7 linked regions of the Homo sapiens genome follow. The protein of the gene in region 3 purifies or fractionates together with the protein of the main gene of each other region. This does not show direct contact. Each region holds a gene or a part of one and is shown on either strand. Other genes may lie near its edges.

The links.
Region 1: the proteins of GRPEL1 (region 3) and TRMT61B purify together in Homo sapiens (co-immunoprecipitation; one large-scale study listed by IntAct). This does not show direct contact.
Region 2: the proteins of GRPEL1 (region 3) and DNAJC3 fractionate together in Homo sapiens (co-fractionation; one large-scale study listed by BioGRID). This does not show direct contact.
Region 4: the proteins of GRPEL1 (region 3) and KIAA1191 purify together in Homo sapiens (co-immunoprecipitation; one large-scale study listed by IntAct). This does not show direct contact.
Region 5: the proteins of GRPEL1 (region 3) and DNAJB4 fractionate together in Homo sapiens (co-fractionation; one large-scale study listed by BioGRID). This does not show direct contact.
Region 6: the proteins of GRPEL1 (region 3) and ITM2C purify together in Homo sapiens (co-immunoprecipitation; one large-scale study listed by IntAct). This does not show direct contact.
Region 7: the proteins of GRPEL1 (region 3) and SUCLA2 fractionate together in Homo sapiens (co-fractionation; one large-scale study listed by BioGRID). This does not show direct contact.

The regions. Positions count from the first base shown.
Region 1 is NC_000002.12:28,860,310-28,863,809, forward strand, and holds part of TRMT61B (tRNA (adenine(58)-N(1))-methyltransferase, mitochondrial precursor), read right to left. Parts: intron 1,000-3,500; coding exon 809-999; intron 1-808.
Region 2 is NC_000013.11:95,760,639-95,764,138, reverse strand, and holds part of DNAJC3 (dnaJ homolog subfamily C member 3 precursor), read right to left. Parts: intron 3,461-3,500; coding exon 3,341-3,460; intron 497-3,340; coding exon 391-496; intron 307-390; coding exon 186-306; intron 1-185. UniProt on the Homo sapiens protein: Involved in the unfolded protein response (UPR) during endoplasmic reticulum (ER) stress.
Region 3 is NC_000004.12:7,061,730-7,065,064, forward strand, and holds part of GRPEL1 (grpE protein homolog 1, mitochondrial precursor), read right to left. Parts: exon of another isoform or gene 3,154-3,335; intron 2,495-3,153; coding exon 2,332-2,494; intron 738-2,331; coding exon 656-737; intron 1-655. UniProt on the Homo sapiens protein: Essential component of the PAM complex, a complex required for the translocation of transit peptide-containing proteins from the inner membrane into the mitochondrial matrix in an ATP-dependent manner.
Region 4 is NC_000005.10:176,351,765-176,355,264, forward strand, and holds part of KIAA1191 (putative monooxygenase p33MONOX), read right to left. Parts: exon of another isoform or gene 1,808-3,500; intron 1,665-1,807; exon of another isoform or gene 985-1,664; coding exon 858-984; intron 1-857. UniProt on the Homo sapiens protein: Potential NADPH-dependent oxidoreductase. May be involved in the regulation of neuronal survival, differentiation and axonal outgrowth.
Region 5 is NC_000001.11:78,007,939-78,011,438, reverse strand, and holds part of DNAJB4 (dnaJ homolog subfamily B member 4), read right to left. Parts: intron 1-3,500. UniProt on the Homo sapiens protein: Probable chaperone. Stimulates ATP hydrolysis and the folding of unfolded proteins mediated by HSPA1A/B (in vitro).
Region 6 is NC_000002.12:230,874,942-230,877,344, reverse strand, and holds part of ITM2C (integral membrane protein 2C), read right to left. Parts: intron 1,726-2,403; coding exon 1,537-1,725; intron 489-1,536; coding exon 378-488; intron 1-377. UniProt on the Homo sapiens protein: Negative regulator of amyloid-beta peptide production. May inhibit the processing of APP by blocking its access to alpha- and beta-secretase.
Region 7 is NC_000013.11:47,945,774-47,949,273, forward strand, and holds part of SUCLA2 (succinate--CoA ligase [ADP-forming] subunit beta, mitochondrial precursor), read right to left. Parts: intron 3,256-3,500; coding exon 3,167-3,255; intron 1-3,166. UniProt on the Homo sapiens protein: ATP-specific succinyl-CoA synthetase functions in the citric acid cycle (TCA), coupling the hydrolysis of succinyl-CoA to the synthesis of ATP and thus represents the only step of substrate-level phosphorylation in the TCA.

The sequences.
Region 1 (3,500 bases), on a different chromosome or scaffold from region 3:
TTTCTCTCCTCTTTGAACTTTGCTTCATTTCTCACCAAAACAGTCCATCCTTCCAGCAGCCAATTAAGGAAAGGAAGAAAGACTCCTAACCAAGGCCTCAGTCCATAGTGTGAAGCTATGAACTGTGAAGTGGCATCACCAAGGAATTCTGAAACTCTTCAGCCAGCAAATACTTCCATGTCCCAGATCTCCACCATGTTTGATCGCAGCTTAATGTATCCTCTCTTGTCATCTATCTTTTTACTTTCATCTTCTCTGCTTCTTTTCCCTAAGTCAACTTCCCAGTGTTTCTCTTCCTCACAATGTCTCTGCTCCACTTTCTGGAGCTTTGTTCATGATAAACACCTCTGTCCTCGACATCTTCAATGAACACACTCCCCTTGATATCCTGACTTCAACTAACTAAAGATGCCTTCTGCCTATTCCCTGTCAAATGGAAGCTACTTATTCCCCCAAATCTCACAGTTCAGGTTAGGTGCCGGGTTCAATATGCTTCCAATGCTGCTTCCAAAGTATGATTCATCCTAGAAATGCTGAGGTTCATGATGCTCAACTAGTCTTTGGTCCTAGCTTTCAGTCATTACCCCACATTCAATGACAACTTCAGCACCCAACTCGGTAACTCAGTATGTCTCTCTGTCCCAAATCCCACCATGAGATTAAAAGGCATGAAACGAAAATATTCTTTCAATCCCTAGAGATAGACATGAAGCAAACGAAGGAAGACCTTTGCCCATACAAAAGAAGCCTGACCCCTATCTTCTTTATAGTCAAAGTAATAACACAGGACCCACGTTAGAAAACTTACTGCGTCAAATGTTAAAGATTTTATGTCTTCGGTTGCTCCTGAAATGTCCTTATGAATAAAATCCACATTGTCTGGCCACTCTTCTACATGACTTAATTTCCATGAATCACGCCAGTGTTTGTAATTCTTCTTAGCCAGATCATGGTGGTCTTTTCGTACCTCAAAACTTATGACTCGTCCTTGTGATCCAACTTAAGTAAAAAATAATTTGATATTTCATAATATTAATCAGTTTATTAAAAAGTGTCAAAAATGTATTTTGCAAAGGTACTACATGTATGTGAAAAAAATAATTCAAATAGTTCAATGTTACAAGTCTGATCTCCTATCCCTGATCTCCAATTAATCTCCCTCCCTCTTCAGAGGCAACCACATTACCAGCTATTTACCTTTCCCATGATAGTCACTGCCTATACAAGCATGCCAAGTATCTCTCTGTGTTTTTAATACACACTGTGGTGTATTATACACACTGTCCTGTACCTTCCTTCTTACTTACCAATGTCATTTCAGTGCTTCTAGATGTACTGCATTCTTTTTTAACAGGCATTATATTCACTGTATGGCTACGATGAACATTTAGCTTGTTTCTAGTCATATGCTAATATAAACAATACTGCAATGAAAATTCTTATACCTAAGTCTTTGTATCAAGCCAGTATATCTCTACAGGATAAAGTCCTAAAAATGGAATTGCTGGCTCAAGGGGTATGTGAATTTATTCACATAATATTACATTGTCCTCCACGTAAGTGGTGTCAACTTATATGCCAACCAGCAATGTATTAGAATACCTGTATCTCAGGCCGGTCGCAGTGGCTCCCGCCTGTAATCCCAGCACTTTGGGAGGCCGAGGCGGGCAGATCATGAGGTCAGGTGATTGAGACCATCCTGGCTAACACGGTGAAACCCTGTCTCTACTAAAAAAAATACAAAAAATTAGCCAGGTGTTGTGGCACATGCCTGTAGTCCCAGCTACTCGGGAGACTGAGGCAGGAGAAAGGCGTGAACCTGGGAGGCAGAGATTGCAGTGAGCCAAGATGCGCCACTGCACTCCAGCCTGGGTGACAGTGCAAGACTCCGTCTCAAAAAAAAAAAAAAAAAAAAAAAGAATACCTGTATCTCCATACTCTCCCTAAGTTATTGAACTTTTTATCTGTATCAATCTAAAAAGTGAATAAAGTTTATCATTTTTAATGTAGATTTTTGAGTTTGGTTTTTTTTTTTTTTTTTGAGACAAGATCTCACTCTGTCACGCAGGTTGGAGTGCGGTGGTGCAATCACAGCTCACGGCAACCCCCACCTCCCAGGCTCAAGCGATCTTCCCACCTCAGCCTCCTGAACAGCTGGGACGACAGGTGTGTGCCACCACACCCAGCTAACTTTTTGTATTTTTGGTAGAGACAGGGTTTCGCCATGTTGCCAGACTGGTCTCAAACTCGTGAGCTCAAGCAATCTGCCTGCCTCGGCCTCCCAAAGTGCTGGGATTACAGACGTGAGCCACCATGCTCAGCCTTTTAATGTAATTTTAACTTGCATTTCTTTTATTATGGATGAGGTTGAGTCTTTCATATATTTAAAAGGTATTTGTGGCCGGATACAGTGGCTCGCCACAGTAATCCCAGCACTTTGGGAGGGCAAGGCAGGCAGATCACTTGAGGTCAGGAGTTCGAGACCAGCCTGGCCAACATGGTGAAACCCTGTCTCTACCAAAAAATAAAAAAAAAAAATTAAAGGTATTTGTATTTGTGTGTGTGTGTGTGTGTGTGTGTGTGTGTGTGTATGTGAAGAACTTTTAAACTAATTAGCACAGTAATACTGCAATTCCAGAGAGGAGTACTACATTTTAACTTAAGGCAATTAACTTTCCACCCACCTCTATCTGAAGTGATTTGATACCATTTGGAGATTATCCCAGATCAATCAGTTTACAGTTTACTAATGAAGTTTAAATTCCAAGGTATCTTTTGAAATGTAACTCCAACTGCAAGTTATCAGGTTCTCAGGAGATAAAAATTAATTTTAATAGTAACATAAGCTGGGCGTGGTGCCCCATGCCTGTAATCCCAGCACTTTGGGAGGCTTAGGCAAGATTGCTTGAGGCCAGGAGTTCAAGACCAGCCTGGGCAACAGTGAGACCCAGTCTCTACAAAAACTTTAAAAATTAGCCAGCTTTGGTGGTATGTGCCTATTGTCCCACCTACTTGGGAGGCTGGGACGACAGGATCACTTGAGTTCCGAGGGTCAAGGCTGTAGTGAGCCACGATCATACCACTGCATTCCAAACTGGGGAACAGAGTGAGAACCCGCCTCAAAAAAAAAAAAAAAGTAACATAAACAACTGGAAAAGAAAATATGGAGAAAAATATCCATCACATAGGTAAATAGCAATAAGTTCTTGCACATTTATAGTTTAGGATTATTCAAGCCATGACACTCTTCTGATACTATATATTTTAGAAATATAGGCACTTATCTGTTCTCACCAATTTTTATAAATCCACTTTGTCAAATGAAACCGTGCAGTTAGGAATTTGTCATAGATGATGAGAAAATGACTGCCTTTAACTATGTACAGAAAAGTCAAACAAAAGATTGATTGAGGAGCCCAGAATGAATTTACCGGCTTAGTATAATCTAGATAATATTCATATGTGAAGACATTAGGTCAAAGAACAAAAGGTGTGAGTTT
Region 2 (3,500 bases), on a different chromosome or scaffold from region 3:
CCTCACATGGTATACCTTTCAGGTTCCACTATGGAAGAGTAATTTTCAAGTTCTCTGCCATTTTTCTAAAATTGTCAACATTTCCAGGTACTCTGGTAAATTTGTTTTAAGGAAAAGGAAGCTTAAAATGTGATAATTTCCTAATCAACACTTCGGTACTGCAAATCAAATCCTTAAAGATTTACCTTCATCATACATTTCCTCTATCAAATAGGCCTCTGCTCGATCTTTCAGGGCATTCACATTGTCAGGTTCCATCTGTAAAACTTCAGAACAAACCCTAATAGCTTCAACAGGCTTCTCGTCCTAAAAGGAAATGTGAGACAAGGATTTATGGTTGGTATTCCACATGTTGAGTTTTCACATTTCTGGGAACAAGTCAACTGTTACCTTAGAAAAGCAGTGGCAAATCCTCTCCTTTGAACGAACTGTATATTCAGCAATGCTTGGCTCTGTTTTCATGACAGATTCATATTTGCTGGTAGCATCTGTGTATCTAAGAAATGAGCAAATCATGATAAGAAATGATGACATTTGATTTCCAGAGCTGTAGAAAGGCTCCTCCCCTCTTCACCATGTGTTGCTTAATCAATCCAATTGGATGAGCCCATGGCTTCAGATTCGGCTTTTCCCTTATTAATCTAGAGTCCCATAGAAGGTACACTCCATAATTAAGAGTTAGGAAATAAAAACATATGACCATAGGAGATGCAGATGGACAGAACAAAGCATACCTGTGAGTATAAGTACCAATCAAACCAGAAGAATTTCCTTACAGAAACATTGCTCAGAATTCCAAACCTGAGTAAAACACCCTGTTGAAGTCTGACTTACACTGAGCACCTTGAACAATACAGAGATCAAGTTTTATTTCTTGGTCAGTAAACACTTCCATGAAAATAATGGAACCCATTACGTGCCATTTTATATAATTAATGTCAGTATTTACAACAAAGTACAACGTAGTTCACACAAAAGGTACCTGATTAAATTCCCAACTGTATAAGCTTTCTAAGAATAAAAGCTATTTCAGCATTTTCTTTAAACCAGTAAAAAGTACTAATCCTGTTATATACTCAGTTATTTCCCTCAACAATAGTAAAGTAAAAAATATGTTTCTATGCCATGGTGGCACACTATTCCCAAAGTGCTACAATCTTCATATGTAAATATGCCAATGTATTAAAACACAGGCTTAACTAAAACATTTAAAATAAAAGCCAGCTTCTCTATCATCCTCAGCAAACTAACGCAGGAACAGAAAACAAAGCACTGCATATTCTCACTCATAAGTGGGAGCTGAACAATGAGAACACATGGACACAGGGAGGGGAACATCACACACGGAGGCCTGTGTGGGGCAGGCAGCAAGGGGAGGGAGAGCATCAGGACAAATAGCTAATGCATGTGGGGCTTAATACCTAAGTAATGGGTTGATAGGTGCAGCAAACCACCATGGCACACGTTTACCTATGTAACAAACCTCCACATTCTGCACATACATCCTGGAACTTAAAGAAGAAAACAAAAAAGCCAGCTTCTGGGAAAGTGGAATAGATGTATTTGTCCCAAGTGCTCCAGCTAAGCACAACTAAAAAACCCTAGAGATTATATGTATATTTTTTAAAATAGAAAACTTTCAAAGGAGGAAAAGAGACAGACTAGCTAGTGACTCAGGACCTGAGGAAAACATGGTAAGACGTTCCCTGGGTTCTTTTTTTTTGTTTCATATATCCCAGACTTGGAGCTGAAGATTCCAGCAATGCAGAAACGCCAACAGGTACAGAACGACAATAACAAAAACCTGCAGAAGTCTGCTCTGTCTAGCCAGAGGACCTGAAAAGGACAGACTTGCAAACAGAAAACATTTTTTTTAGAGACGGAGTTTCGCTCTTGTTGCCCAGGCTGGAGTGTAATGGCACAATCTCGGCTCACCGCAACCTCAACTTCCCGGGTTCAAGCGATTCTCCCACCTCAGCCTCCGCAGTAGCTGGGATTACAGGCATGCGCCACCACGCCCGGCTAATTTTGTATTTTTAGTAGAGACAGGGTTTCTCCGTGTTGGTCAGGCTGGTCTCAAACTCCCAACCTCAGGTCCTTCAATGGATAAATGGTTAAACAAACTGCAGTAAATCCATACCATGGAAACTACTCAACAGTAAACAAGGAGGAATTATTGATACAATATGGATAAATCTCCAGACAATTCGAATGAGGGGGAAAAAAGCCCATCCTGCCAGCTGTGGTAGCATGCATCTGAAGTCCCAGCTACTCAGAAGGCTGAGGCAGAAGGATCACTTGAGTGTACTATGACTGTATCTGTGAACAGGTGGGCAACATAGTGAGATTGTCTCAAAAAAAAAAAAAGCCAATCCCAAAAGTTTATACATTGTATGATTCTATTTATGTAACATTCTTAAAATGACAGAATTCTACAAGTGAATAGATTAGTGGTTGCCACAAGCTAAGGAAGGGATAGGAACAAGAGGGAAGTAGGTGTGGCTATAAGGGCAACATGAGGTGTCCTTGTTGGGATGGAATTATTCTGTATCTTGACTGCACCCACGTCAATATCCTGATTGTGACAATGTACTATAGTTTTGCAAGGCGTTATAGTCTGCAAGATGTTGGGGGAAACCGAGTGAAGCATTCTCATGATGGCAACTTACAAAGCTACTAAAAGTAGAGGAATTGGAGCCTATTTTCTATTAGGCAGTTTTGTCTGCAGTGCCCTCTACTCTTTTCAGTCCTCCTGCCCAGCCTATAAACCCCCTACAAACAACACTCACACAGACACAGCCTCTTACTTCTGTCCACTTTTACTTATTCTTTAGGATTAGGATTTAAATATCTATCACCTTCTCTAAAAAAAAAAGCTCCTCTTTTACTCCTTGCCTTTACCATCCTGGTTTGGAGTAAATACTCCTCTTTGGTACTCCAATTATCCTATGTACATTCTATCACTTTGGTATCATATTGTCTTTTAATAATCAATTCATATATTTGTCTCCCACGCAATGCTATAAACTTCTTAAGAACAAAAACTATTGTCAAGTTTAAGTCTGCACCCTCAGTACATAGCTCAGCCTGATATAGGAGATAATAAATATTTGGTATAGTACAAGTAATTCTGCTGGTAAGGATACTACACAGTTACTATTATTTATATTCTTCCCTATTCCAAAAATGTCCAATTCTGGTAGTTTTGCTAAGGCCCAGGGCTATCTAGAATACCCCACCCTCAATGGCTGAGAAGTAAAAGAGCAGTTCTGTAGTTCACTTGTGCCCACAGCCCCGCACATAAGGAATGGCTGGACAGTTGGAACAACCATATTCTCACCTGCCATCTCTGATGAGCTCTTCAGCTGACTCAATCAGCTTATTAAGTTTCTTTACTTGTTTATAGTGTGCAAAACACCTTTTATGATCCTGGTCAAGTTTAAGACATTCCCGAACTTCACTGTTCATGTATTTAAAAAAGGAAAATACTCCATGTCAAA
Region 3 (3,335 bases):
CCAGGAAAAAAAGTGTTTCAATGAGCGCCTCAGTCTCTGTGAATGCGACAGAGACTCTAGCTCTTAGTTTCCATGTGGCCTCTCACCGTCTGACCCAGGCAAGGCCATTTACCCTCCCTCGAGCCTTAGGTTCCACATCTCTAATACCCACTGTCAGTCACGCAGAGATCCAGAGCCAGCACTCAAACAACCAGCCTGTGGAGCTGGGAGCCTGGGGTTACGTACCAGCTTTGTGATGTGTGGCAGGTGACTAAACCTCAATGATCTCAACTGTAAAATGGGAAGGACAGTAACAAAAACATCCAAAGGTGGCAATGCATATAGCATGCTGGGAGTTCTGAAGTGATGCCAGTGTTACTTCCGGAGGGCTAAGGGGATGGGCATCAGAGGCTGACCTGCTGCAGGTTCCCACCAAGGTCTCTGCGTGGGGGAGGACACACCTATTTACAATTCTTCATGCTAGTCTCAGCTACTTGATTTCTGCTCCTCCAGACACCTTTGCTGTTGAGCCATCATAAAAAAAAATGCAGGGGATGCAACAGCTGGACCCCCCACCCCACAGCCTTGCTCTCTGACACTTCCGTATGCATGGCCTTCCCCTTCCCCACCCCATTATCTTCTTTCCGGAATCAACACCATGTTATGTTGAAAGTACCGTATAATTTTGCCTCCTCCACCAATTTCTGGCTCCTCTGCCGTAAGTTCTCAGTGTCTGCCAAAGCTCGTTTATATTTTTCCTAAAAGAGAAAAAAAGGGATATTTATATATATATATATATATATATATCTTTTTTTTTGAGACGGAATCTTGCTCTGTATGTCGCTCAGGCTGGAGTGCAGTGGCATGATCTCAGCTCACTGCAAGCTCCGCCTCCTGGGTTCACGCCATTCTCCTGCCTCAGCCTCCCGAGTAGCTGGGACTACAGGCGCCTGCCACCACGCCCAGCTAATTTTTTTGTATTTTTAGTAGAGATAGGGTTTCACCGTGTTAGCCAGGATGGTCTCCATCTCCTGACCTTGTGATCCGACCGCCTCGGCCTCCCAAAGTGCTGGGATTACAGGTGTGGGCCACCATGCCTGGCCGGGAGATTTATATTAATATGGAACAAAGTCATAGGAAAGCGAGCTTGATTGGAAAACGGCTGTGTAACTAACTACAAGTCAAAACAGAAGTAATATCACTGCCTTTGAGATGTGACTAAGGAGGGCAGCTTAATGAAAGCTTAATAAAAGCTGCACTCATGATCTTTTGCTATGCTGTGTTACCCAGAGGTGGCTCAGTTCAAACATTCCTTGTGTAATCATCATCTGAGTTCTAGTATATTCCTCATGTCTCACCACCTTCCGGTAAGCTCACTCATCTGAGCCTTTTTTTTTTTTTTCTGAGACAGGGTCTTGCTCTATCATCCAGGTTGAAGTGGTGTAATCTCGGCTCACTGCAGCCTCAACCTCCTGGGCTCAAGCAATTCTCCCACCTCAGCCTCCTGGGTTGCTGGGACTACAGGAGTGCACCACCACGCCCAGCTAATTTTTAATTTTTTTTAGAGATGGAGTCTCACTATGTTGCCCAGGCTGGTCTTGAACACCTGGGCTCAAGCAATCCTCTTGCCTCAACCTTCCAAAGTGCTATCAGAGGGGTAAGCCACTGCGCCCAGCTAGCTTTTCTCTTTTTAACATTTACTAAGTTGCTCTGTGGGGGCCTCTATACTGCATCCATTTTCAGTCTTCAGGTAATCACTGTACAGTGGCAAGGAGCAAGAGCTCCAAGTCCAGGGGGTTCTAGTTCGAGCCCTGGCTCCGCACCTGGCAGCCAGGATTAACATATGTAACGGGTTTGGAATGGTGCCAGCACTCAGGGTTTGATGTCTTTCTCAAATCCTTAAAGAACTTGATTTGTGCCACCTATGTGTTTTCACATGGAGTAATAATCCATGTTACTAGTTCATAAAACTCCTACCTGCCTATGAGAGCATCACATAAAACCACACTCCTGCTCCCAACTCTTGTACTTGCAATTTTCTGCTTCCTCTCCTAAGTCCCAGCCTAAACAACCATACTGAGCATTCCTCATTTGTAAAGATGATTTTAAGTTTTCATTCAATGACAAATAACAGCGTGTAAAGATTAGTCTCTTGCCAGAACCAGAGTTGCACAGGATTTGGGTTTTAGTCTTTGCTTTGGCAGTAACTTGCCACCTGGGCCCACTGCAGGCCATGGACAACGGCTTAACTCTGGCTTTAGTCTGTCACCAATGAAACCTGGAACCTTTATGTGGCCCAGGAGAGAAACAGTTCAGCCGAGCCCGCCCCCACAGGAGCCTCACAGTCCTCACCACAGTCTCCTTCAGCTGTTCCTCCAACTTGACCTTCTCTTCCAGGAGGGTCTTCTCTGTAGCAGGAGGATCTGCCTTCTGTTCACTCTGACCCATGTCCTCTTCCAGGTTCTGGCCACTGTTCTTTTGTTTCGTGGCTGTGCACAACAACCGGGGAGATGGCCTACAGGGAAGTCCACACGTGAGAAACGAAGACTTAGTTTTTGTGCTTATTAAAGTCAGATGTATGACTTTAGAAACTTAAAATAGCTTCAAACTATTTACTATTACTTGGGGAGAAAACATTTCTGTTAGATCTAATAAAGGCACACTGTACGTGACATATAGAAGCTATATTAGTAAATATAAAAGCTGTAAGTCATATACAATGTGCCTTTATTAGATCTAAGATAAACATATATATATTTTTTTAGAGACAGGATTGGTCTCTCTCTATATATCTATCTATCTATACATCTATCTATATCTATATGTATTTCTTTTTTTTTGAGAGAGAGAGTCTTGCTCTGTCACCCAAACTGAAGTGCAGTGCAACCTCCGTCTCGTGGGTTCAAGGGATACTCCCACCTCAACCTCCCCAGTTGCTCGTCACCACACCCGGCTAATTTTTGTATTTTTAGTAGCGATGGGGTTTCACTATGTTGGCCAGGCTAGTCTTGATATCCTGACCTTAAGTGATCTGCCCGCGTTGGCCTCCCAAAGTGCTAGGATTACAGGCGTGAGCCACCGCGCCTGGCCTCTCCATGTATTTTTAGAGACAGGGTTTCGCTGTCACCCAAGCTACAGTATGGTGGCACAATCATAACTCACTGTAACCCCGAACTCCTGGGCTCAAGTGTTCCTCCCACCTCAGCCTCCCAGAGTGCTGGGATTACAGGCATGAGCCACTGTGCCTGTCTTTTTTATAAGATCTTCTGTAAGTACATGCCTAAACTTACATGTCAATGTGCCAAGTTACAGTACTTGGTACAGAACAGTACTAACCTCCTCTTTCCATTCTAAGG
Region 4 (3,500 bases), on a different chromosome or scaffold from region 3:
AAAAAAAAAAGAAGAGAAACCAAAGTAAGAGTCTGGACCTTTGGTTCTTGGTGAATTCACTAGGAATTGCCCAGGACAAACTGATGCCCTCCTGGAGAAGATAAACAAGGGCTTCTGACTTCAAAAATGAGCCAACCAAGGAGAACCTCTATGTACCTTACCCTGGTAGGGGCACAACTGCTGACAAACAGAGCCATGTATCTAATTGTTAACTTCCCACAGCAACCTGTACAGCCCTCCAGAATGAAGAAGTTTAGTTAGCTTGTTATAAGGTTAAAAAAAAATCCAAGTTCTCATATCAGGTTTCATTAGGATGACCAATCATACATTCTTAAGACTAAAGACACTTGGACCTGGTCCTCTTCCTGGTAGACCAACTTTGAGCTGTTTAAAAAAAAAAAAACAAAAAAAAAAACAAAAACTGGGGTAAGTGGGAAATGCCCGGATGTTTCCCCTTCTCCAGCAGAGCTTGAAACAGTAACAGCAGCAGCTGCCGCCACTGAGCACTGGGCCTTCTGATCCTCACCTCAACCTGCCAGTGAAATTCCCCATTTTAGAGCGGGGCAGTCTCTGTAGTTAAGTAGCTTGCCCAAGGCCACAGTGACAGAGCTGGGAACATGAGATCATATCAACAAAGCAGCAGGAATGCACCTAAATCAGATAAGATGCTTAACATTTGGCAAATCTTCCACTTAATAAATGGAGCTTCAATACTGACATGATTCAGCAGCCAAACTGACATTTTTTAGGATAAGGTAAGGCGAGCGTGTTGCAGTATCATCTCCAATCAGCTTGTAGGAAGCCTCAACTCTTCCCTGCCCCTATGGCACTCTACTCTGAGGGTGAAGAGTGCTTACTTGTGATCAGAGAATTCATGATGACATGGGTAGCTTTAGCCTTCACCACTGGGACCTTGTCCACACTGTCAATGGCTGATGACAGGGTCATGGCAGGGGAGGGTAGACTGGCCTCTCCTTCCTCCACCTGTTCAAGAGAGGTACAGTACAGAAGCACTTAGGCAGGGCAGGGGAGTCACACACCTAAACTTACTCCTTTGGGGAGGAAGTTACTGAAATAACATTAATCTGGTAAGTGAGGAAATCATTGAAGGGAGGAGTTGGTCATCTCCACCCAGCTAGATAGGTATTATCCATAGAGACAACAAAGAAAGACATTAGGTGAATAGTTTACATTTATAAAGGTGGGAAAGCCAGAATTTGAAGCTCTGACGTCTACTACCTTCCCAGACTATGATCTTCCGATATACTATAGTACTATGCCCTAAGAATGCAGAAGAAATGCTTATTACGAAGCACTGACCACATCCCAGGCACTATGCTAGATCTTAATTGATGAGAGCACTGGCTAAGTGGTTCTGACCCTGTGCCAGCCATTAGAACAGACTGCCGGGCTCCACCTCAGAGTTTGATTCAGTAGGTCCCTGTTAGTCTGGGGTGGAGTTCAAGAATTTCTTTCTAATAAATTCCCAGGTGTTACTGATGCTGCCGGTCCCAAGACCACACCTTGAGGACCACTGCTCCCAAGGTTCAAGTAATGGTCTTTTGAAACAAACAAAAAAAATCTACTTAGCTCCTCATTTTCAACCTGCAAGAGCTGGCAGCCTCCACCTTCTGCAATCGAAACACCTGATACCTTGCTCAGGCCTAGCAGGGAGGAGAGAACAAGACTTATTCTTTATTCTGTGCTTGTCTGGAAGAACTGAGAAGAAAGTAAGATGGTTGAAAAGGGGGGACAGATAAAAAGTAATGAAAAATGTTGTATCCTTACTACAAAACAGAATTTATACCTTTAAGCTGTGACCTTGAGTAAAACTTGAGCCTGTTTCCTTACTGGGAAGACGGTTGATTCCTAACATGGGGAGAGTTAGGGCAAATGAATAGGATCGCATGCAATGAGTCAAGCGGAGCTCTCCTTTGGAGCAGCTGTTCCAAGCCATCAGCTGTTCCAGCTGAGGCCCAGAAGAAATCTGGAAGCCCGCTCATCCCTTGCCTTGTGGAGCCATCAGCAGGGTGTGTGGCCTGGCAAGCACCACCAGAAGCCCTGCTCACCTCCTGCTCTGGACCCTAAAGCCCATTGCTCTGACATCACAGGCAAGCTGCAGCAGGCCTTTTCTCCCTGCACTTTTGCTACTTGTTACATGGAATACTCTCCCTGAACAACTGACTGGGTCATATTTCAGTAGATAATTGATAGAGGGAATATCCCCCAGAGCTGTAGGGGCACTTTCTTAGAAAGGAGCTGTCTGCCCTGAAAGTCTGTTGGAGGCGGGGGGAAAAACACTCCTTAGAAATTATCAAATATGGCTCTACTAAGAGAAAGTTAAGCAGGGAGCCTGCAGTCATAATATCAGCTACACAGCTAATACACAATGTGCCAACCCTTTACATCCCCTGACTGAATCCCCACAACACCTCTATGACATAAGGTATTCCCAACTCTCAGAGAGAGACACTGGGGCTCAGGGTAAAGTTGTGTGCCCAAGGTCTTGCTAGGGCAGACCACCTGGGACTCACACCCAGGCCTATTTCAGTGGACCCTTACTGTGTACTGCCTGTCAGGCCCTGAGCTACCATGTGGCTCAAAGTTCAGAGAAACTGTAGCTACAGGTTAAACAGCCTTACGTGAACTTGGCGGGCCTACTTTATTCAGGCAACAGTCTAGCCTTTCTTGTATTCTTGGTGGCTGGAGAGTCAGAGGGGAGAGAGTCCCTGAGGTCGGGAAGCAGAGGCTCCAATAATGCGAACCTACGAAACTAGACTGCACGAAGGACTGTGAGGTATGTTCGGAAGGGCCTTAGGAAGGAGGCAGTTCTTACAGAGGATGGCCATGGGCAAAGGCAGCTGAGGCTGGAGGTACAGCATGAGGACAGGTACAGCATGTGTTCAAGAAAGGGCCAATTTTTTTCCCCAATCACAAAATGAGCAGTTTTTGGGAATCTATGCCAGGCCATCGGCTGGATCCTGCAGATAAGAGTACAAACCTAGACATGGCCCCTGTCCTCAGGAAGCTAATGGAGGGCGAGAAAGCAATGCAGGGATGACGACGGGGACCATGGTACCGTGGGGAGCTCAGAGGGAGAGGTGATGGCCTTATCAGGAGGACGGAGATGTCAGGAAAACTGTCACAGAAGAGACTTTTGAGCTAAGACTTAAAGGATACCAGTTTTCAGGCAAATGGAGTGGGAGAAAAGGTGAGAGGACAGGATGTGGATGGCAAACATCCTAAACAATCAGGGCAGTGTGAGCCAAAAACTGACAGGCAGAAAATACGCTGCTAAGTGCAAGAATTTTAGGTAACTTGCACAGTTCAAGCACTGGGTAGGGGAGCTGGAGAGATGCAGGCAGGACTTAGATCACATGGACTGTGGATCATGCTGAGCTTGGATTTAGCTCTGTGGGGAATATGAAGAGTCTCAGGAGCAGACAAGGCCATTCTAGTTTTGAATTAAAAAGAAAAAAAAAAGGAGGGAGATTTAAAAA
Region 5 (3,500 bases), on a different chromosome or scaffold from region 3:
TGAGGACATTCTATGAAAAATGGTTTTTTAGACACTACGATTGTCATTCCTACTCTAGATACCAAATTTTTTAGGCATATCACATCTTAGCATTAATTTCAATGCTTGTAAGAAGACTGAAATCAAGAGCTGTAAACTTTGACACGTAAGGCCTCTATATGGGTTATTTCTGTCTCTTGTGAACAGTCCACCTCAGGCAACAATATAGTGACTTTTTGACCCTTTGCTTAAGGGTTCCACTAAGTAATATTTAACCCACAAAAGATTATATTTGAAACAACATTTTCCACTATGAAAGAAATGTTCTACTAAAACTCAAAAAACAACAGTATGGTGATCTTTTAAGGGGTCAATACAGATCAAGAAACAAGCAGGAAAAGAATCTAAAAATCATAAAACTATGAAAAATCCAACAGATTAAGCTAGGAGATTCTAATATCTCCAAACAGTGAGTGATTTGAAGGCAGGAAATATATTTATTTTGCACTGCTCATGCATACAGGGCTGAAAATGGTAGGTATTCATGCTTAGTGAATGAAGGGAATGAACTAATTCCTAAAGTCCTTCTAAATCAAAACTAAAAAAGGTGTCTTGAGTATCGGTACAGAGAAAAAGGCAGAAGCAAAAACAATGTAAAATATAATCACACATATACATATATGAGAGATTTAACAATTTAAAATGCCACTAACACACAGCATACTTTAAAGAAACTTAGTTTTGCTTACGTCTTATTCTGCATTTGGCTTCTTCCATTAAAAGGTATATATCTACTCTATTTCATCTAACAGGGTCTCAAGTGATATCTAAAATTTTTACCTTCATCCATGAATAGAAATCTGGAGAGATCAAGAGAGACCTAATAATCTGAAAATTGCCAAAATATGTATTGAACAATATATCCAAATAGCAGTTAGGGAAATTCCTTGTAGAATGACAAGTATAAGCAGGACAAGATCTTTTCATAAGCAGCTCATCCAAATTTCCCTTTTATAAATTTTAGTAGTATAATTATAACTCCAAATGTTAAAAAGGTAATGGCAGATTTTTTTTTTAATGATAGAATAATATGTAGCTCAAGGTCATGACCAAAGTGACTCAACCAATGCTTAAATTATTTAAATAATTTTATCCTTCATCCCATAGACTTAAGGGAGTATAATTATTTAACTGAGTTAAGTAAACTGGGTAAATCAGCCTGCCCAATCTAGCCTCTTATAAGACAAAATTTAAATACTTGCACCCATAATGAATTCATGAAAAGAAAGAATAATGTTTTAATTTATTACATCATGGGTTTGGCTTTCTGGAAAACCTCTTCCTCCTCTGCCAAAAAGGGCAATTCGGTCATAATTACAAAGTCTCTGAGAAGATTCATACAAAGTCTGAAGTAACTTACCAAAGCTGATAAAAAGACTCCAATGCAGCTTTGAGGTTTTCCTAGACACTATTAAACAGTCAACTATGCAGCTCAGACAAAGAACGAAGCTACTCTAATGAATGAAAAAAATCCTAGGCTGGGCACAGTGGCTCACACCTATAATCCCAGAACTTTGGGAGGCCAAGGTGGGTGGAGCATGAGGTCTGGAGTTCGAGATCAGCCTGACCAACATGGTGAAACCTCGTCTCTACTAAAAATACAAAAATTAGCCAGGCGTGGTGGCGCACGCCTGTAATCCCAGCTACTCAGGAGACTGATTCTGTCTCAAAAACAACAAAAAAAAGAAAAAAATCCTACCAAAATTCATGCCACTTTAATATACATTATTATGCAAGTATCACTTGCATTGTCTAGCACATAAAATTATAAGTAATGTCACATTAACTATATGGTCAGTTCTTAATCATGTACATTTTGAACGCTAATGGAAATGTTTAATATCCAATTGGATTCCCTCTGCTATTCAAAATGTTTTCTAGACATCGTCATCACTTTGTGTGATCAAAAAACGCACCAGAGAAGCAACATTTGCCTATGATTTAGCAAGACTGCTATTATTTTACAACTAACCAGTCAACCAGTTTGCAGTCCCAAACCAAATATGTGTTTGGAATACTATCTATAACAATGATTCCCACTAATTAGTTAAGGTTGACTAAAAGTTTCCAAAAGAAGAAACACTGGAGAAAAATTCAGATTGCAAAGAAAAAAACATGATAATACTTTAATAACTCTTACTCCATCCAAGGAGATCTAATATGTAAAAATCCAGATTTACAGCAAGACTTCAGTTATCAAATAATGAGATTCTGAGATTTTTTAAACAGTTTTAATTCACAAAAATCAAATTTACTTACATGTTTTTAGAACACACAGTGAATTAAAAAAAATCCAGCTAGCTAAATATATAAGTTAAAGAACAGAAGAGAACTAGTATAAAGATTAATAAATACAAGTTTTATCATTTAAACACTACCTTTTAATATTTGAAGTTACTGAATAAATCATATGCAATAACAAAATAAGGAAAGCATAAAAAAAGAAAAATTAGAAAACTAGAATAAATGAGGATGTGTTATTGAAAATCTTTTCTTTTAAATCTCTTAACACAAATTTTTGTTGACATCCACTAAACTATTCAAGACTAAACCTAAAACTTTAGAGAGTGGTTCAGAATCCAATTTTAAATTTCTGTAGTTCTGTGGTTTTTGTTTTCAAATGATTCAACTATAGAGAAATTTTATTTTTAAAAAGATTTATTACATATATAAAATTAACCTATTGTACAAATACAATTCAATTGATTATAGTAAATTGATAGAGCTGTATAACCATCATCACAATCCAGTTATAGAACATTTCCATCATTCCAAAGAATTCTCTAGTTCTTATTTGTAGCTAATCCCCGCTCCCACCTCAAGTCCTAGGCAAGAAAGATCTGCTTTCTTTTTCTATATACTGGCCTTTTCCAGACATTTCACATAAATAAAATCATACAATATATAGTCTTTTACATCTGGCTTCTTTAATTTAGCATAGTTTCTGAGGTTCATCAATGGTGTAGCATGTTTCACAAATTGGTCCTTTTATTGCTAAATAGTTCCTCATTGAATGTATATAGCACATTTTGTTTAATTCACCAATTTATGGTGCTTTCAGATTGTTTCCAGTTTGGGGCTATTATAAATAATGCTGCTATAAGCATTCAGGTACATGTCTTTGTGTGGACATGTTTTTGTTTCCCTTTTATAGATTCCTAAAAGTAAATTTGAGTTATCCGTATTTTTTTTCTTTCCTTTGCTTTTTCTAGAGGTAGGGTCTTGCTATGTTGCAAAGGCTGGACTCAAACTCTTGGGCTCAAGCAATCCTTCAGCCTCAGCCTCCCTATTAGCTGAGACTACAGGCATATGCCACCTCACCCAGCTAGCCAACTGTTTTTAAAACAAAGCATTTTAAATTGTGAATATTCAGAACACAAATATACTGTGTTCTGGATTACTGGTTCTTTCACTCCTAAATACATAAATTTAGCATATGCAACTTACATACTTTTCAGTTT
Region 6 (2,403 bases), on a different chromosome or scaffold from region 3:
CCTCGCCCGAAATGCCAGCCCACCTCCCTCCTCCAGAGGCCCCTGGGCTGGCCCTTCTGATGTCCTCAGGCACTTCCTGCCTGTGCCCGGTGCCTGCACCTGTGCTGCCAGGAGCAATGGCATGCGCACGAGTCCGTACCCAGGGTACAACCTTGAACACTAAGGAAGCCGGTCTCGGGGCATTGACTCTGGAGATGTGGAAGCAGGGGGATAGCAGAGGCGAGACCAATCTGGGTACAGGGCCCAGGTGCCAGCAATGTCTCTTGCTCCCCCAACCCCTGACACAGGAACTTCCTGTACCTCAGACCTAGCCTCCATGAGACAGGGGGCAAGGGAGGGACAGGATGCTGCAGACATCCCCCCAACCCCCTGCGCACCTTCACGTTCATGAGGAGCTCCCAGAAGTTGCGAGGGGGCAGCACAATGGTGGTGTTGAGTTCGATGACATAGCACTTGTCCAGGGAGATATCATGGTACGCAGTCAGACCCTGGCAGGAGAAGGGGTTGGGTCAGTCTCTGCAGGAGGTGACAGCTGACCCAGGCAGGGCTGCAAGAAGCTTTGGCCAGCCAGGCGCGGTGGCTCATGCCTGTAATCCCAGCACTTTGGGAGGCTGAGGCGGGCGGATCAAAGGTCAGGAGATCGAGACCATCCTGACTAACATGGTGAAACCCCGTCTCTACTAAAAATACAAAAAATTTGCCAGGCGTGGTGGTGGGCACCTGTAGTCCCAGCTACTCGGGGGGCTGAGGCGGGAGAATGGTGTGAACCCAGGAGGCGGAGCTTGCAGTGAGCCGAGATCGTGCCACTGCACTCCAGCCTGGGCGACAGAGCGAGACTCTGTCTCCAAAAAAAAAAGCAGCTTGGCCAGCAGGGGCAGGAGTCCCACCATGCCTTCCTGGGACCCTGGGCCTTCAGGAGCAGAGTCCTCTCCAGACTCCTCAATACCTGGGCGGGCACTCCCTTTTCCTGGTCTTCTCTTAGCCTGTTGTAGAAGGTGCCACATGATAGAGGAAAATAGCAGCTGATTGCTAAACGCCTCTGTTGTTATAAAGCTTCTTCTCATGTTTACAGAGCTGAGGTTTGGGGAACATGGTAACATCCCAGCTGTGCATTTATGAAACCTGTGAGGGCCAGCCATTCCTGGGACAGCCTGGACCCCAGCGAGAGATGCCCTGTCTCAGGACCCATGGGGGTTACATGAATACGCATGAGACCCACTCTGCAGAGACCCGCTGAGCTGTACACGCAATGCACTCGATGGTGAATGTACTACCCCTCGATACAACGCACTGGCCCTGCCATGACAGCCAGCGTGCAGCTGGCAGGAGGCTGAGGAGAAAATCAGCCTCGGCTGCTTCATACTCAGCAAGAACCATTGTTGCTAACAGGAGAAAAGCAGTGTCTTGAAGACCCTGGTAAGCCTAACCGTAGACACCTGCTGTACTCCGAGGAGTCTCCTTTCATCCCTGCTCCCCTTGCCCTGAGTCCCCGGGACACCCTCCCACCCCCCACCCCCAGGCCCTGGCCAGCCTCACCCGCTGGAAGTCATGGATGATGTCTGCAGGGTCACCGCCGCCAAACTGGGGCACAGGCACGTTGATGCGCTCGTAGTTCTCGTCGAGGTAGATTTTCACATCCTCTTCCAGCTCCATCTGAGTCCGGACCTGGGAGGACAGGGAGTCCTCATACAGCACACCACAGCGGAAGAAGTTATCTCGGGCCAGCTGAGCAAGGCGGAGAGACAGACAGACAGTCAGAGAGGCTGGTCATACACGCACTCCGTAAGGCCCCCTCTTGCCTACCCGTCCGCTACATGCCCCAAAAGCCTGCGGAAGCAAGAAGAGCAGGGACTGTGAGACCCATTTCGCAGATGGAGAAACTGAGACGGTGGGGCATCAGGTCAGGGTCTGGGGCTGCCAGTGAGGAGATGAGCTGATTCTTGGGCAAGGCGCTTCCCAGCTTCACAAACGGAAGGGAGGATGAGCTGGGTCTGCCAGGTTCTAGGTGGCAGACCTCTCTGGGCCTCAGTTTCCCCATCAGTAAAGCATGATGATCCCTAAGGTCCCTTCTGGCCTCCAAGTCCTTGAGTCGGTGACTGGGAAAAGGGGTGGCCCAGCAGGACTAGGACCTGGCCACCTCCGTGCCCTCCACAGAGGTGCAGACACCAGAGAAAGAGCCTGGGGTTGGCAGGGGGTCAAGGACGAACCTAAGAGTTGGGCACCTACGCCTGTGCACGACTGCCTTTCCTGTCACCTGCTGTCCTGGCCTGCAGACCTGGAGGGGCCTAACACGGCGGGTGGGGAGGTGGAGCTGGAGGCAACACTGTTAAGAGTCTTGTGCCCCTATCACGGTTACCTCCACATCCAGCCTCGGACAAGTGCCATCGCCCTTCCTGGATATCC
Region 7 (3,500 bases), on a different chromosome or scaffold from region 3:
GAAATAAAAAAGTCATTAAGTTTTAAACTGTGTGTTGTTCTGAGAAGTGTGATGAAATCTTGCACCATCCTGCTCCAAGTGGAATGTGAACCATCTCTTTGCCCAGCGTATCCACGCTGTATAAACTACTCTTCCATTAGTCATCAACATTATCTACTCTTGACATCCAACAATCAACATCATGGCTCAATGATCCAGGATGAACCAAAGCAGATGATTCTCCTTCTGTTACATCATTAGGTCAGTAGTAGCCTAACACTATGTCACAATGCCTTCATCATTCACCTCAGTTCATCTCACCAAGTAAGCATTTTATCATCTCATTATCACCACAAAGGTGAGTATAGAACAATAAGATATTTTGAGAGACCACATTCACATTTATCACGGTATATTGTTATAATTGTTCTACTTTATTATTAGTTGTTGTTAATCTGTTACTATGTCTAATACATAAACTTTATCAAAGGAATATATGTACAGGAAGAAGCACAGTATATACAGGTTTGGAACTATCTGTGATTCAGGCACCCACTAGGGGTCTTGCAACACATTCCCTGCAGATAAGGGGGGACTACTGCACACATACATATAGTTATATACATACAATTAGCTTATGTTTTTAAGAAGTGGAAAGATAAACCAAAACTTTCTTAAAAAACAAACAAAAAAAAAAGGTAAAAAGGTTGCCTGTTGGGGAAGAAGTAAAGAGGGAAATATATAAAAGCTAGATTCCCTGATAATACCTTGTTCTATACTTTCCACTTTGGAATCATGTAAATACAAAATAAAAAACAAAAGGTTGTGTTTTTTTTTTTTTAAAAAAAGCAATCCCTTTAAAAACAATGAAACTATACAAAGCTGAGACAAAACACACAGAGAATTATTTCACATGAATTTTAAAATCCACTAAGTTGTGGGACATACCCTAAAGGACAGAAAGAAATGCAGATATAATTGCTTTCAGTAATCAGACTGTTGGTATTCTTATTATAAAACTGTCATATCTGTACTAAGGGACAAAGCAAATGAATAATTATGATAGTATGGCATGAACGAAGGTACAAACAGATGTCAGATAAGAAAAAAAAATCTATACTCCTGGACTTGCATTGAAAATATCAGTATGAACTCAAGTATTACCTCTTTAAAAAATACATGTTTTCTCAGACTTGCCACTTAAAAAGCTCAGAAACAATAATCAACCCAGTATCTATGAATACTCATAAGGCCAAATTGTGCTCTCTAAATACCATTTGGCCCATTCAAGTTCTGACTCAAGAAACGTAAAGATGAGCCTGAAACATTTTATCATACCAGATAGAGGGCTTCTCAGAAGGATGCAACAGTTAACCTGAAGAGGTTCCCAAAGACCAAAGGTTGGACAATTTCAATCACAACTTACATGAACTGAACTACATCAATGTTTTAAGTCATAAGTTCAAAACAGTATGCCAGTGGAACACACATGTGTATGCATGTGTATGCACACACGCACAATACACACACACACACACACACACACACCTGAAAACAAAAAGTAAACAAAATACAAAAAAAACAAAAAACAAAAAAAACCCTAGGTCACCTTTATTGGACATAATAGAACAAACATTATTTTGAAAATTGGTCAATAAAGGCAAATAATCAGGTAATTATCCTACTTTTCCTATGCAAAATGTACTCCATGGTAACAAATGGTTGACACGTGGAAGTATTACTTTTTAGAAGCATTACATATAATAAGTGAAGAATGACAGAATTACAATAGCAACGCTTTGCAACACAAACAAAATACTGGATCTAAGCTATGATGTCAATGGCTAGTAATACCACAAAAAGATTAACATTGTATACGTTTTGATGAAATTAAACACCTACTATGAAATATTCTTGTTCCCTGCTCCCCAAAATCAAATATGAATATGGTCAAGCCTACAGACTGAACTCCCAGTTTACAGGAAATACACAAGGCAGAGAACACAGAGAGGGCAGAGAACACAGTAAATGAATGACAGCCTAAAGATGCAACCATTAAAATCCAGACTATGAGAAACTTAACAAGACCATCAACCTGGATTTTTCAACAAATAAACCACAGAAAATACTTTTCTTTTTAAAAGGGGAAACCAACAGATTAAGAAACTTACTGACATATTAACCAACTACAATGCAGAGACTTATTCTGACCCTTACAAAGAACTTAAACAAAAGATATAAGAGACTCAGAAATTTCAACAGACTGTATTTTTATAAAACATAACCATAATACCATTACCCCACCTAAAACAAGTAACAGTAATTTTTTTATACCATTATCAATACCTTTATCTTTTACAGATGCATGATGAAATGTATGAAATGATATAATGTCTGGGATTTGCTTGAAAATAATCACAGTTGTGGGAGGAAGTAAGAATACAGACAAAACAACAAACAAGATTGGGCAGGAGCTGACCGTTGTTTAAGATGATCACAGATATAAGACGTTCTGACAAAGATTCTCTCCTTGACCAAACTCTCTTTTGTTTTTTCAATATATATTTATCGAATATATAGATAGATACACACACATACATACATATGCGTGCATGTGTGTGTGCGTGCATGTGTGTGTGCGCACATGTGTGAAGATAGGGTCTCCCTATGTTGCCCAGGCTAGTCTCAAACTCCTGGACTCAAGCAATCCTCCTGCCTCAGCCTCCCAAAGGCTACTCTGAACTCTCTTCTCAACTTGGCCCTAACTTTTGGACTTCTGTATTTGTCCCTGCATAGTCCAATTTTACCAAGAATCTTGCTTAAGTCAGTTTAGCCAGGATCCTCCCTTACCCATAATGTATCCTTTTAGTAATTTTTCATCCACTGCCCCGACCCTCTTCCTTGGTTATAAATTCCCACTTTTCCTTGCTGTATTTGGAGTTGGGCCCAATCTTTCTCCCCTACTGCAAAACTCCACTGCAGTAGTCTCTATGCTTATTGCAACAGTCCCTCTGAATAAAGTCTGCCTTAACATCTTTCAGCAAGAGTCATGAATAATCGTTTTCTTTAACCATTCATTACACTCATAATATTTAGCTGAAACACAAATTATTAGCTGTATTAATAATTAGGTTCATTTTAGAATCTGTGTTTATAAATCCTCCTTAGATGAACATGGCCAATTTACCATTCTAGCAGCTTCATCCAAGTCATCACAAGCAAGTATTTTAAGTCCACTGTCCGCTATCAGTGCCTTAGCATCATCGACTCGTGTACCTGTAAATGATTTATGCAAATATAAATGTTTTAAATACACACACAAAAGCATTTTAAAATGTTTGCCAAAACATGGTATAAGAATAAAACCTCAACAGAGGAGACTTCCATTATTTAGTATAAACACTTCTAAACCAAAGAAAACACTGTAAAAGCCCAGGTTATCTTATAAAATATTTTGCCTTACAATAATTCTGACTTGCTTAGTAATTCAGGCAAGTCAGAATTCAAGACAAATCACAACA